Homo sapiens: one gene and its partners. The protein of the gene in region 3 interacts with the protein of the main gene of each other region in a biochemical or structural test. Each region holds a gene or a part of one and is shown on either strand. Other genes may lie near its edges.

Evidence for each region.
Region 1: the proteins of FBN1 (region 3) and VCAN form a complex in vitro, tested with the Homo sapiens proteins (one study listed by BioGRID).
Region 2: the proteins of FBN1 (region 3) and FBLN5 form a complex in vitro, tested with the Homo sapiens proteins (one study listed by IntAct).

What each region holds. Positions count from the first base shown.
Region 1 is NC_000005.10:83,516,697-83,520,529, reverse strand, and holds part of VCAN (versican core protein isoform 1 precursor), read right to left. Parts: intron 1,182-3,833; coding exon 1-1,181. UniProt on the Homo sapiens protein: May play a role in intercellular signaling and in connecting cells with the extracellular matrix. May take part in the regulation of cell motility, growth and differentiation. Binds hyaluronic acid.
Region 2 is NC_000014.9:91,945,830-91,949,429, forward strand, and holds the start of FBLN5 (fibulin-5 isoform 1 precursor), read right to left. Parts: upstream 1,866-3,600; 5' UTR 1,401-1,865; coding exon 1,384-1,400; intron 1,204-1,383; exon of another isoform or gene 950-1,203; coding exon of another isoform or gene 882-949; intron 1-881. UniProt on the Homo sapiens protein: Essential for elastic fiber formation, is involved in the assembly of continuous elastin (ELN) polymer and promotes the interaction of microfibrils and ELN. Stabilizes and organizes elastic fibers in the skin, lung and vasculature.
Region 3 is NC_000015.10:48,470,877-48,474,709, forward strand, and holds part of FBN1 (fibrillin-1 isoform a preproprotein), read right to left. Parts: intron 3,775-3,833; coding exon 3,652-3,774; intron 3,502-3,651; coding exon 3,379-3,501; intron 1,801-3,378; coding exon 1,675-1,800; intron 1-1,674.

The DNA of each region.
Region 1 (3,833 bases), on a different chromosome or scaffold from region 3:
CACAGAAGACTCTGTAACATGAATTGGCTCTGAGAGAGATGTAGAGAGTTTCATCCCAGAGAAGACTTCTTCTTCTGTTTTTCCCATAAATGGACTTTTAGTGATCTCTTCTTGTATTTCATCTGTATAAGTATCTGTTCTCATCTCTGGTATTAGTGTTTCTGTTCTTTCTCTTCTATGTGTCATTTCTGTTTGTAGAGAAGGATAAATAACTGTGGAAATTCCCTCTACTAATATTTTATCACCAGAATAAGGAAACAATTCTATTTCTGTACGATGCTGTGATGGAAAAGGTGTAGTAGACAGATATTTGCCAAGAAACTCTTCCGTTATCCTACCACTAGTTTGTCTCTCTTCCCAGTCATCCATGGATGATCCATTATTATCAGGCATAATTAAAGGGGAAACAGTTGTGGATGCTGAGACTGACTCCAAGTCTTCTAAATGAGTGTGGATGGTGTCTTCTGAAGTCTTTGACACCGTAATGACTTCAGGAATTTGGTCAAAGATCAAGGTGCTCTCATCAGATCCAACTGTAAGTGTTCTGTCTTCATCATCCTCTTCTCCCAAGGTGAATCCATAGTGACCTGTGGTTACCAATTCAGAAACAGTGCTTACCATTTTCTTTTCAGTTTTGGATTCCAGGATCATTCTTGCAGTTACCAATGGTGTTTCAGTTACAGGGAATTCCTTGGAAGGAATGTGCTTTAAGATTTCCATAGATGTTACCAAAGGACCCACTTCTATTTGTTCAATCTGTGTAACCGATTCTTGTGTTTGTTTATCTTCCACGACACCATCCCATGAATCCGTAGCATAATGAGAGACGCCAGTTGTACTCTGGAGCACTTCTTCCTTAATTTCTGATATGTCTAGCTTTCCAAGAGGTCCTGAAGCAGAAGGTGAGTAGTCATCCATATCCCAGGGCTTCTTGGTACTGCCAGTAGGTGTGGGTAATTTGGTGGCTAAACTATCTGTGATAGCCTGAGGTTGGACTGTGGCTTTCTGTTCAAAACTGACAATATTTCCCACGGGAGGGAACTCTGTTGGAATGACAGGTAATTCATCAACTAAAGGGATGATTGGTGTAGTTCTATCAGAAACCATTTGTGGTTCTTTGGATAAACTGGGTGATGCAGTTTCTGCGAGGATACTCAAATCGATGGTTGTAGCCTCTTTAGCTAGAAAAATAATTTCAAAGAGTTGATTAGACAAGTCACTAATAAAAACTTGTATGCCCAGTGTTTGTTAAGTGCTCCTGAGTATTTTGTAGGGAGTATTTTTGGGTGGCCCAGAAATGTTCTGTGATGGAGAGGAGTCTTAAAACTATACTTGAATTAACCCAAGGACAGATAATTGAACACTTAATAGTCATAAATTGATCAGTTGTTTTACGTTATAAGGGTTATCACTGCTTTTACCTAAAAGTATGCATGACTGTTACCAGTTGAGGAAAATTAATATTATGTAGTTTTAAGATAAGGAAAAGCTCCCAAAAATATAAATGCAGATTTTAGATACAGTAGATTGTTTATTTACCAGAAACTACAGCGTCAACTTGAAGCCTCGCAGGAGAATTTAGTACTATTCTTCTGGAGGCTTCTGTACCCTGTCTCCAGCTTTCTCCACATGCTCCCTTCTTTTCAAGTTGCTGCATATTATCTCAGGGGAGAGGGTGTGTCTCAGATTGCAAAACAACAAAAAAGCCACATGAAATGTATCCAAGTTACATATAAACCATTACATTGTCCATAATGTGGAGACTTTCATAAAAACAGGATATTAAAACTTTTTAATACCACTCTTCACTTGATCCCAGGTGTTGGACATTTGTCTTCATCCTTCTTTCAACTTCATGGTGTAGATTTGTTTCTAATAAATTATAAAATGTGCCTGGCAGAGGCTAGTCGGCATTTGTTGTAGTTCTACATTTTGTTCTATGTTCTACACACTCTGTTTGTATCTCCTAAGGATCTTGTTTCCAGGCTTACTTTAGCCTGAAACACAAATGTAGAACAGGAAGTAAAGTACCCACATAATGTATTTTAGGTCTGTAATTACAAATCACTGGGAACAACCCTAAGCATCAGAAAGAACAGGCTCAGGCAATATAAAGTAACCTGTCATCATAAAATGCTGCATTATAATGGCTCCAGATTTACAGAGAATGGCCTGGCCTGTTGAAAGAAATTTAAATTGTGTATAAAAGCAACAGTTTGTAAACAAGATTCTTTCTCAACACAGGGAAAAGGCAGCAGCCTACTATATAATGATTGTTTTTTTAAAATAAAAATCAGTATTTTTAAAAATAAAAACCTATTAATAGTTGCCACTGAACTCAAAAGAACTGTCCTGAAGAAACCTGTAGTTATTGTTTTGCTACATCCTATAGGACTTAAAGCTAGTTTTATGAGTAAATGCTTGTTTGCCCTGAAAAGAGGTGTAATAGCCATAGTATCTATAGTATCTTCTTTTTTATTTTTAATAATTCCAGAACAGGAGCCCTCAAAAAACAAAACAGGCTACCTTTTAGCTCCATTTGCTCTGTAAAAACTTAATCATAAAATGATGTGATTTTATTGTAAATCAGACTAGGGCTGTAACAGGTTCCTTATTTTTTGTCTGGCACGAGCTGTTATTAGTTGTGGTCATTCCCCAGACCATTTTAAAGCTCAGCTTCACTGATTTTATCATGAACATTTGAGGGCTATTTACATTATGATACATTTAAATATTCTTTAAAGTCTGTCATTATTTATCTTTCTAATATTAAAACAAAACTAACCAAAAAAGAGTTGGAGTTTAAAAACATTAAATAACCTTTTCCTCCCCTTTTTAAAGAAAAGCTTTTTCTACATTCATTTCCTGGAAGAAGCGTTGTTCTATTTTGATTGACATGAACAACTTAAAAACCCAAAATGTGGATGACTATTTTAATTCAATTCTCTATCCTCTGAAATTCCATAACCATTACTTCATTTAACTGCCAAATTTCATGTTTGTCTTATAACTGCATTCTTTGGGGAAATAGTAAAAAGATACATACAGAAAAAGTTCCCATGGAAACATAATATAAATACTTAGCAAACAGCATATTAGAGAAAATTTAATCATATTATTATTAATAACAACAAAAAAGCTAAATTTACTTTTTCCCTCTGAGTATTTCCTTGGCTGATGAAATTAACTTAGAAACAGGTACAATTGCATTAGGGCCAAAGGGGCTGTGAATCCAGGCTTCCTATGTTCCAATCCAAGCTCTCTGCTAGCAACTTTCTACAATGCTATGAAAATATGTTTATAGTGTTTTAAAAGTTGACTCATATTTTTAAAACTAAATAACTAGATTTCATTGTCAATTATTACTATGGAGTTTGCTGTTGCATTCCTTCCTCTAGTCCTGCTGTGTAATAAAGTGGTAGCAATATGTCCTAGAGAATCTGTTCTAGAAAGCCAGTATTTATGTGACTTTGTTTCCAAAAACAAGGGTTTTCAATAATTTTAGAGCCCTATTTTAAAAAAGAAAAGGTCTGCTTATAATTAAGTTAATTAATTCTACTACTTGGAATGGAAAACCTCAGACTTCCTTTTCAGTTTGGGTGGCTTTTTCATCAACTTAACAGCTGATTTTGATCACAAGTCAGTGTATCTGAGGATTTGTGCCATTTGTTTCAACCATTCCACAAAAGGAAATAATTTTATAAAGCACAATATCTACGAAGAGATATTTTAAGAATAAATACCACTGTATTCTGATGACTATTGTAAAGGTAAAAACAATTCCAGATTATTCTAACAGTGTCCTTCCAATAGGTGCATTCACATGGAGAAGT
Region 2 (3,600 bases), on a different chromosome or scaffold from region 3:
AGTGCAGAGCCAAATCCCAGGGCTTTTTGATATTTGCCATGGCCAGATTTATATCTGGAAGGAATGAAAGAACAATAACAAATTTATTTTCCAGTCTGTGTATTATGAATTTCAATGTTTTCCTGTTTCTTCACATGAAGTTTCCTTTCAGTTGGTTATAAAACCCTGTCTCGTTTATGTTGGAGAAAGAACAGGCTGACTGCAACACAGTGGACTTCAAGAGCTAGTTGAAAAGGCATGCTAACCCCATCTTTCCCCCTACTCCCCGCAGCCCCATTCCCTTTGGCTAGAGGCAGCCCTGGGACAGGTCTTGCCTCAAGCCCAGCCTCTTGGAAGAGCCACAGCTGAGTCCTGGGGGCCAAACAGGTTCCAGGCTAATAGGATTTTCCTAAAATGAAAGAATACCCAAGCACTACTGCCTCACAGCATCACGAATAGCTGCACCTTGTGATTAAAAAAAAAAAACCCTGGAAACTCCAAAAATGAACTAACTATAAGAATAGCTGGGGGGAGGCAGGTTGGTGCTCATAACCGGTCCTGGGAACTTTCTAAAGCAGGTGGGTTCGCCGGTGTTGTGCCTCAGCCTGAAACACAAGGAAAGCCGGAGAGACCAACCAAATACCAGGACTGCCTGTCACAGAAGTGCTGGTCCCCAATCCAGGATGACATTGTTACAGCTTAGTTTTCAGCACACACACACACACACACACACCCCACAGACACATACATACGCACACAAGGTTAATTTGTTCAAAGCAGTATGTTTTCAAGAGCTCGCTGAATAAAGACTGTGGGTGTCATTTAGGTAAAGTTCTCCAAGACTTAAGGATTACTTAACTGTAATTGCAATTTCCTTAAAGAATAGCAAAACATTTGCTTACATGTATCTCTGTCTGCAGTTCCCACTTCTCATTGGCTTGAAACTTCTGTGAGAATCCCACACAAACATAGAGCAAATCCAGCCCCGCGGTGTTCAGCTAGCCTGTCTGCTTGTCTATCAGCCGATGCGGCGCAGTAATTGCTAGTGAACTAGTAATTGGCCTCCCGAAATTTAAAAAATACATACAAAAATCCCTTAAAACGACAAAGTTGCTGCCCTTTCCAGAAAAGAAAGAGGAATGAAGCGCTGAGAATTTCGCAGCCCTCTCTGATGCTGGCTTTTGAAACTGTATTAGAAAATACCCACTCCCAAAAGAACGCTTCAAGATGGAAATTACAGAGGCGCAGCTTTTTATAATTAACAATATCATTGCATCACTAGCTCATGCCTTTTCCAATATCCTGACACCGCCTGAATCGCAGCCATAACCATTTTCCACCCATCGGATTTTTAGCAAGGCTTCCAGACCCTGGAGAAAGAAAAGTCCAGCGCCGAGAACCCACCTTTTTATTCCTGGCATGTCCAAGACGCGCGAGGAGGAGATGCGAAGGCGAGAAGAAAGCTCGCGGGCGGGACCCCCGGAGGAGCTCGGGCACGTCGGCCTCCTCTGGGCCCTCGGGGCTCGCGGGTGTTTTATTCCAGAGGGGCCGAGCGAGTCGTGGAGAGGACACGGGGAGAGCGCCGGGGTCCTCCCAGCCACTGCAGAGCCCTCAGCGCAAGCACCTGGTTTTGCTTAGCCCTCTTCAGTAATTCAGCATTAAACCAATTGGAGGAGGAATGTTAAAAATGAACACTTCATTTTCTAAGTATGTTAAACAATGCAAATGGGGCCTCAGTCTGGACACAGCTGGTTCAGATTACAGCGCTCACCAACTGGCTAGACTCCTCACAACAATCTTGGGGCGTCTGCCAGGGCCCAGTGCTCGGCGCTGGGAGGAGAGCCCTTCCCCGGCCGCGCTCGGCTGCGAGCGCCCGGGCAGAAGGCGAGGGGCGGGCGCGCGCAGGGGTGCGGGGGCTGGGAGGGCCCGGGCCCCTTGACCTTCCCACCCAGGGGCGGGGCGGGGCTGGCAGCGCGGCCCGGCGGGGAGGGGCGTGCACGCCCGCGCTGCGTGGCAAGGGGACCCGCGAGAACGTTGTCGCCTCCGGAAGGAAAGGGACTTGAACTCACGACCCACGCAGCTCCAGGGACTAGAAACTCACGATCGATTGGGAAACCAGAACCTACGAAGCAGAGGCTTGGGGCGAGCGACGGGAGAGTCGCGATCTTCCCGAAGAAGGGGTGGGGAGCAGCGGGGTGGGGTGGGGGGGAAGAGGATGGAATCCCGCTGGTGCGAATTCCAGACTTCAGCTTGTGCAATGCAAGTCTTAGGACGCTTTTCTCTCCCCGCCCTCATTCCCCGATTCTCCCTGGCATTTTCTCGCTTTCCTGGAAAAGTGTCCCCTGGCTCGAAAGTGATTTTAACAAGTTAAACGGTGATTTGAAGAAGGGACAGTCTGGAAAAGCAGAATGGTGGAGACAGCACATAAGACATGCTGAGTCCTTTGCATTCATTCTAGTGGAGGCTTCAACCTGTTTCTTTTTCCTGTTTGTTTGTTTGTTTGTTTGTTTGTTTTTAAGCCATTGGAGTACTTTTGTCAATGAAATCTTACAGAAGGCACTCACTCTATAAAACGCCAGTGGATGGACTGTGGCCTATCCCATCTGCTTCCACCTGCATCTTCCTACCTGCAGCCGAAAAGCCCTGATCCAGGTCCCCTGTCCTCACCACCACTCTAAGCAGTAGGAATGATCATCTCCATGTTATTAGAGGTGAAGATAAGAGAGGTTAGGTAACCTCCCCATAGTCACGCAGCTATTCATTGGTACAGCTGAGCCTCTGGAGTCTACATATTTAGCCTTCCCTAAGGCATTTTTGGGGGTAAGTAAATGGAATTCTACCCAAAGGAGAATAACAGAATGTGGATAGTTGTTGAAGCTGTGTCCATTATACTAGTCTAATCTATTTCCTTTTACGTGTTTGAAATTTCCTGTAAAACACTTTTTTAAATACCTTATGTTTATAAGGTTGTTCATCCCCCCATTGTTTGTAAAAGCAAAAGATTATAAACACCTTTAAGGTCGATCAGCAAGGCACCAATAGGGTTAAATAAAGTAAGGGGCTTCCAAAGGGACTATTGTGCAACCAATTAAAACCTAGACACTTAAGAGTCCACATCAAACGACTCCATTTATATAAAATTCAAAGTCAGATAGTGACTGGGAGGCAGCCCAGCCCCTTCTGGGTGCTGGTAATAATCTAATGATTGATCTGGATGCTGGTTATGTAGGGGTGTGTACATTTAATATTTGTGAAGTCTTATGTATGTTATATCTTATTTTGAAAAAAAGACTGAAACAGCTCCGTATGCACTGCTATTGAAGGGTTTCCAATATATTTTGTGGGTCAAAACAGTAGAATATTGGTAATTTCACATAGATTGATCTAATATAGTAATAAATGTAAAAAGTAAGCTGCAGAACTGTGTGTAAAGCATGCCATCATTTGTGGGAAAAAAAATAAATACATAAGTTCTTGCTTGTACACGTACAGAAAAGACATCACCTGAAGGATGCACAAGAAACCATGAGTATTATTGGTCTTAGCTCAGGCTGCTATAACAGAATACCATAGACTGGGTGGTTTATGCAATAACATTTATCTCTCCCAGTTCTGGAGGCT
Region 3 (3,833 bases):
TGGGCACTTCTCCTATAGACTTTTAGATGATTTGCCATGCACAGTGAAGTCTCGTAGGTGAGAGGTTACTTTTCCTCAGTCTCTATTACATGCCAAGCAGCGGGCTGAGCATTTTATAGATACATATCTCATTTGTAGTGTTCCACGTAGGTCCACATCACTTTCGTAAAGTAAGAGGCAAGCAAGCCACCTTACGCTAAATTCGTTTTTTTTTTTTAATCTATCTATGTAGTCACTGTTTTTGTTGTGAATTAAAATTTCACAAGCCACAATGTCTTTCAGGGAACTGTCATAATTAGTTGCATAATCTCCAGTGTCCCTAGTCCTATGGCATGTGTTTGCCTTTGTTGACGGAGATTGGAAAACCGCACACGCTTCTTCCAGGCCTCTGTCTCTGCCTCCTGTTAACATTCTTCGTGTGCAGTTGACACACAGTCACATTTTCAGGCTTGAGACTAGCTTTAAATAGCCATGACCACTCCACCAGCCATGATTTATATTAAGAACAAACAAACAAACAAAACCTTCTCTTATAGCAATAAGAGAAGCAAAACTTTCACTGTGACTATTTGTGTCACCAGAGGTGGCACAGTACCTGTTTTCCTTGGATATTTGGAGTAACAAAAGTAAACAAGGTATTAGGCACATGATCAAGAGCATAATCTGGTTTCTTGACTCCAAGGAGTTTTATATCAAACTCTGCATATTTAATATAAACTGTATAAAGAACACCCAACGGTTCCATAACAAAGAAAAGTATTCACATAAAAATACATGAGGGAATTAGTATACATGTCATAGCTAATGACTGATTTTGAGTTCACGTCTTGTTAACAAGGAACAACTATTAACTAATACATTAATCAGGGTCTTGTTTAAACTTCTACTGACAATCGTTATCATTTGTTTATTTCTACTGAAATCTTCTTTTCAATGAAGGAGAATGTGCTTAAATTTGACAAATGTGGGTAAAGGGAAGAATCTTGTGTTCCCTAATGGGATCCAGCCTTAGCTAACAGGTTCCCAGGACTCTTCGTGTCTGACCAACACTTATCAGAATGACAGAGCCTAAAGCTGAGCGATACCATGCCATATGGCAGTATCCCAAGGGTCCCCTATTGAACAGATTTGCAAAACTGTTCCATGTTCATATATGTTAGATATTTAGAGCAAATGTGAGACATACCATTCTACGTATGGACAAGACTATTTGCTCTGCTTTTATTTCTACAAACCAAATACAGTGGAGATTAAAACCTGTGTTTCCATATTTAGTGATAATCCCACAACAGGACATTATCAGGGAACTTGCACTTTCAGCTCTTTTCTCCCTCAGTAGGGATTAACAGGTTGCATCCCCCTCCGTAGGGATAAATGGGTTGCACTGATTTAACCACACTTGGTTACCCTCATTGACCAATGGATACACCCTTGCAGACCATGCGGCCAAGGCTGGATGTACAGCTTGTGGCCAGTCAGCTGAGGTTTTCTGTGCAGCAAGAGAAATGGTCAGCTGGAAACCTAATCCCTCTACAAACTGAACTGACCAGCTTAGAAATGAAGCTAAAACACACCTCAGTTTAAAAAAAAAAAAAAAAAAAAGCATCAGGAATGTTTAAATAACCTAATCTCATCAAGCCCAGCAAGGCTCCCAGTGGCTTCCCCATCAGTTACCTTCACAGGCTTTCCCGTCAGCACTGGGCACGAAGCCCATGTCGCATTCACAGCGGTATCCTCCTGGTGCATTGAGGCACTGGCCATTGCCACAGAGATTCAGGTTCTCAGAGCACTCATCAAGGTCTACAGCCAGAAAGAAACACACGTTACTCTTCCTCGGTTAGGGGCTTTCTAATTCCTCAGGTCTATCAACTTTCCAGTGCAGCAATGTTTTGGCATAACTTCAATTTGACACATTTAAAGTCATTTATTTTTCTCTTTGGTAGGCTAACACTGAATATGAAATTTACATGTGGCTGATTCAGAATCCTGAATGATAATTTACCCTGAATGATATAAAATGAATAAGCCGAAGGAATCATGCAAACTAAGGCCTGTTCAAGAAGGGTCATCCGCATGGAGGGCACACCCATGACAGGAAATGACACATCATGTTTGTGTCTATTTCTCAAGTTTCAGGCTTAGCTTAGATGGGCACCAAAAGTGCAAAAGAATGGCAACCATAGGGAGAAGAAAAATTCCATCTGCTTAATCTCTACCTAGTTTTCTTAATAATCACAGGCATTTAAATATCAAACACATAAACCACACATGCCTAATACATGGAATTTGAATATGTTCTCAAAATGATGGGAGGTTTTTGATGACAAAACATCAATAAGTTAGGCAAAAATGATTTCATCTGAGATAAAACTTTCAGGGAATAAAAAAAAATTCCAGGTAAATCACTTAATGAGCCTTAGCCTCTATTGTGCTTAAATGACTTTTTATGAACAAAGTGCTCAGGATAAATCAATGTTTTAAGTTATAGGAGCAGCTATGCGACCTAATGGCTAATGGATCTTATTATTTTATTTAACTCCAGAGCTCTGATATAAAAAGTGCTGTCTGTAAATATATGCACATGTAAGTATATGTATAATTTATGTAATGACAAGTCTAATCATGTATGTTTACATGTGTATAGAAGTTTATGTTAATTCTATGGCTATTAATTAGAGCCAAAAAGAAAATTTCATTAATATATTATTGCAAAACTGGAAGTGAATGAATTCCATAGCAGGTTTGAAATTTTTACTTATACCAATATGGAATGTTGATGATGACGATAATGATGATGATGATGGCCTGTTGGAGAGAAATACATACTGTTCTTCTAATCTAGAACATCTAATCCCTTCTCCTTACATAGTTCCCTACAGCAAGCTTATCCTTGTGTTGGTACAGAAAGGAAGTCATTGGTGAGAAATAGGCAAAAAAAAAATAATAATAAATAAAGGCTAGGCATATAAAAGGAAGTATGATTTGTTTAAACTAATGACATCATTATATACAGTCATATAATGATATATATGCCAATTGTAACTATTATAAGGCCTAGCTGACTTGAGGTGGAGAATGGTATGACTTTTTTGGTATCATTTTATGTTAGAGCACAGATCACTGTAAATGATGTGATAATGGCACCTAAATATCTATCTATCTATCTATCTACCTACGTATCTACCTATCGAGAAGCTTTTGAGGTCTCCCTAATTGACCTGGTTCCAATTTTTTTTTTCCCACAGAGCTCTAGTGCCAAATGATGAATCTTTTCTATTAACTGACCCAGTCTTCAAAAAAGAATTGCTAGCCTGAGAAATGTGGAATGCCTGGCTTCTCTGACTAGTGTTGACACAGTTGTTTCCAGCGTGAACATACCTGTACAAGTGAAGCCATCACCTGTGTATCCTTCCTTGCACAGACAGCGGTAAGATCCCATGGTATTCTTGCAGTCTGCATGCTGGCTGCACATATGGGTTCCATTGGAACATTCGTCCAGATCTTATAGAAAAAGGTTATATCATTATTAACAGAAAGGGTGGTATTTAAAACCAATAATACACAAATTAAAATAACTTTACATAATTAATATTTTCATATGTGTAATCTATGCAGTCCTTGATAAGCAACCTCTGTTACTTTCCTACTCACCAGTGCACTTAATGCCATCTCCAATCCACCCGGGACTGCAGCTACATTTGAAGCTTCCTGCTGTATTGGTACATACAGCATGTTTGCCACAGTTGTGTGCTCCAATTTCACATTCATTGATGTCTGGAAAAATGAGCAGTGATTTAGAAAAAGGCTCAGCACAAATGTCTTTTGGTTTTTAA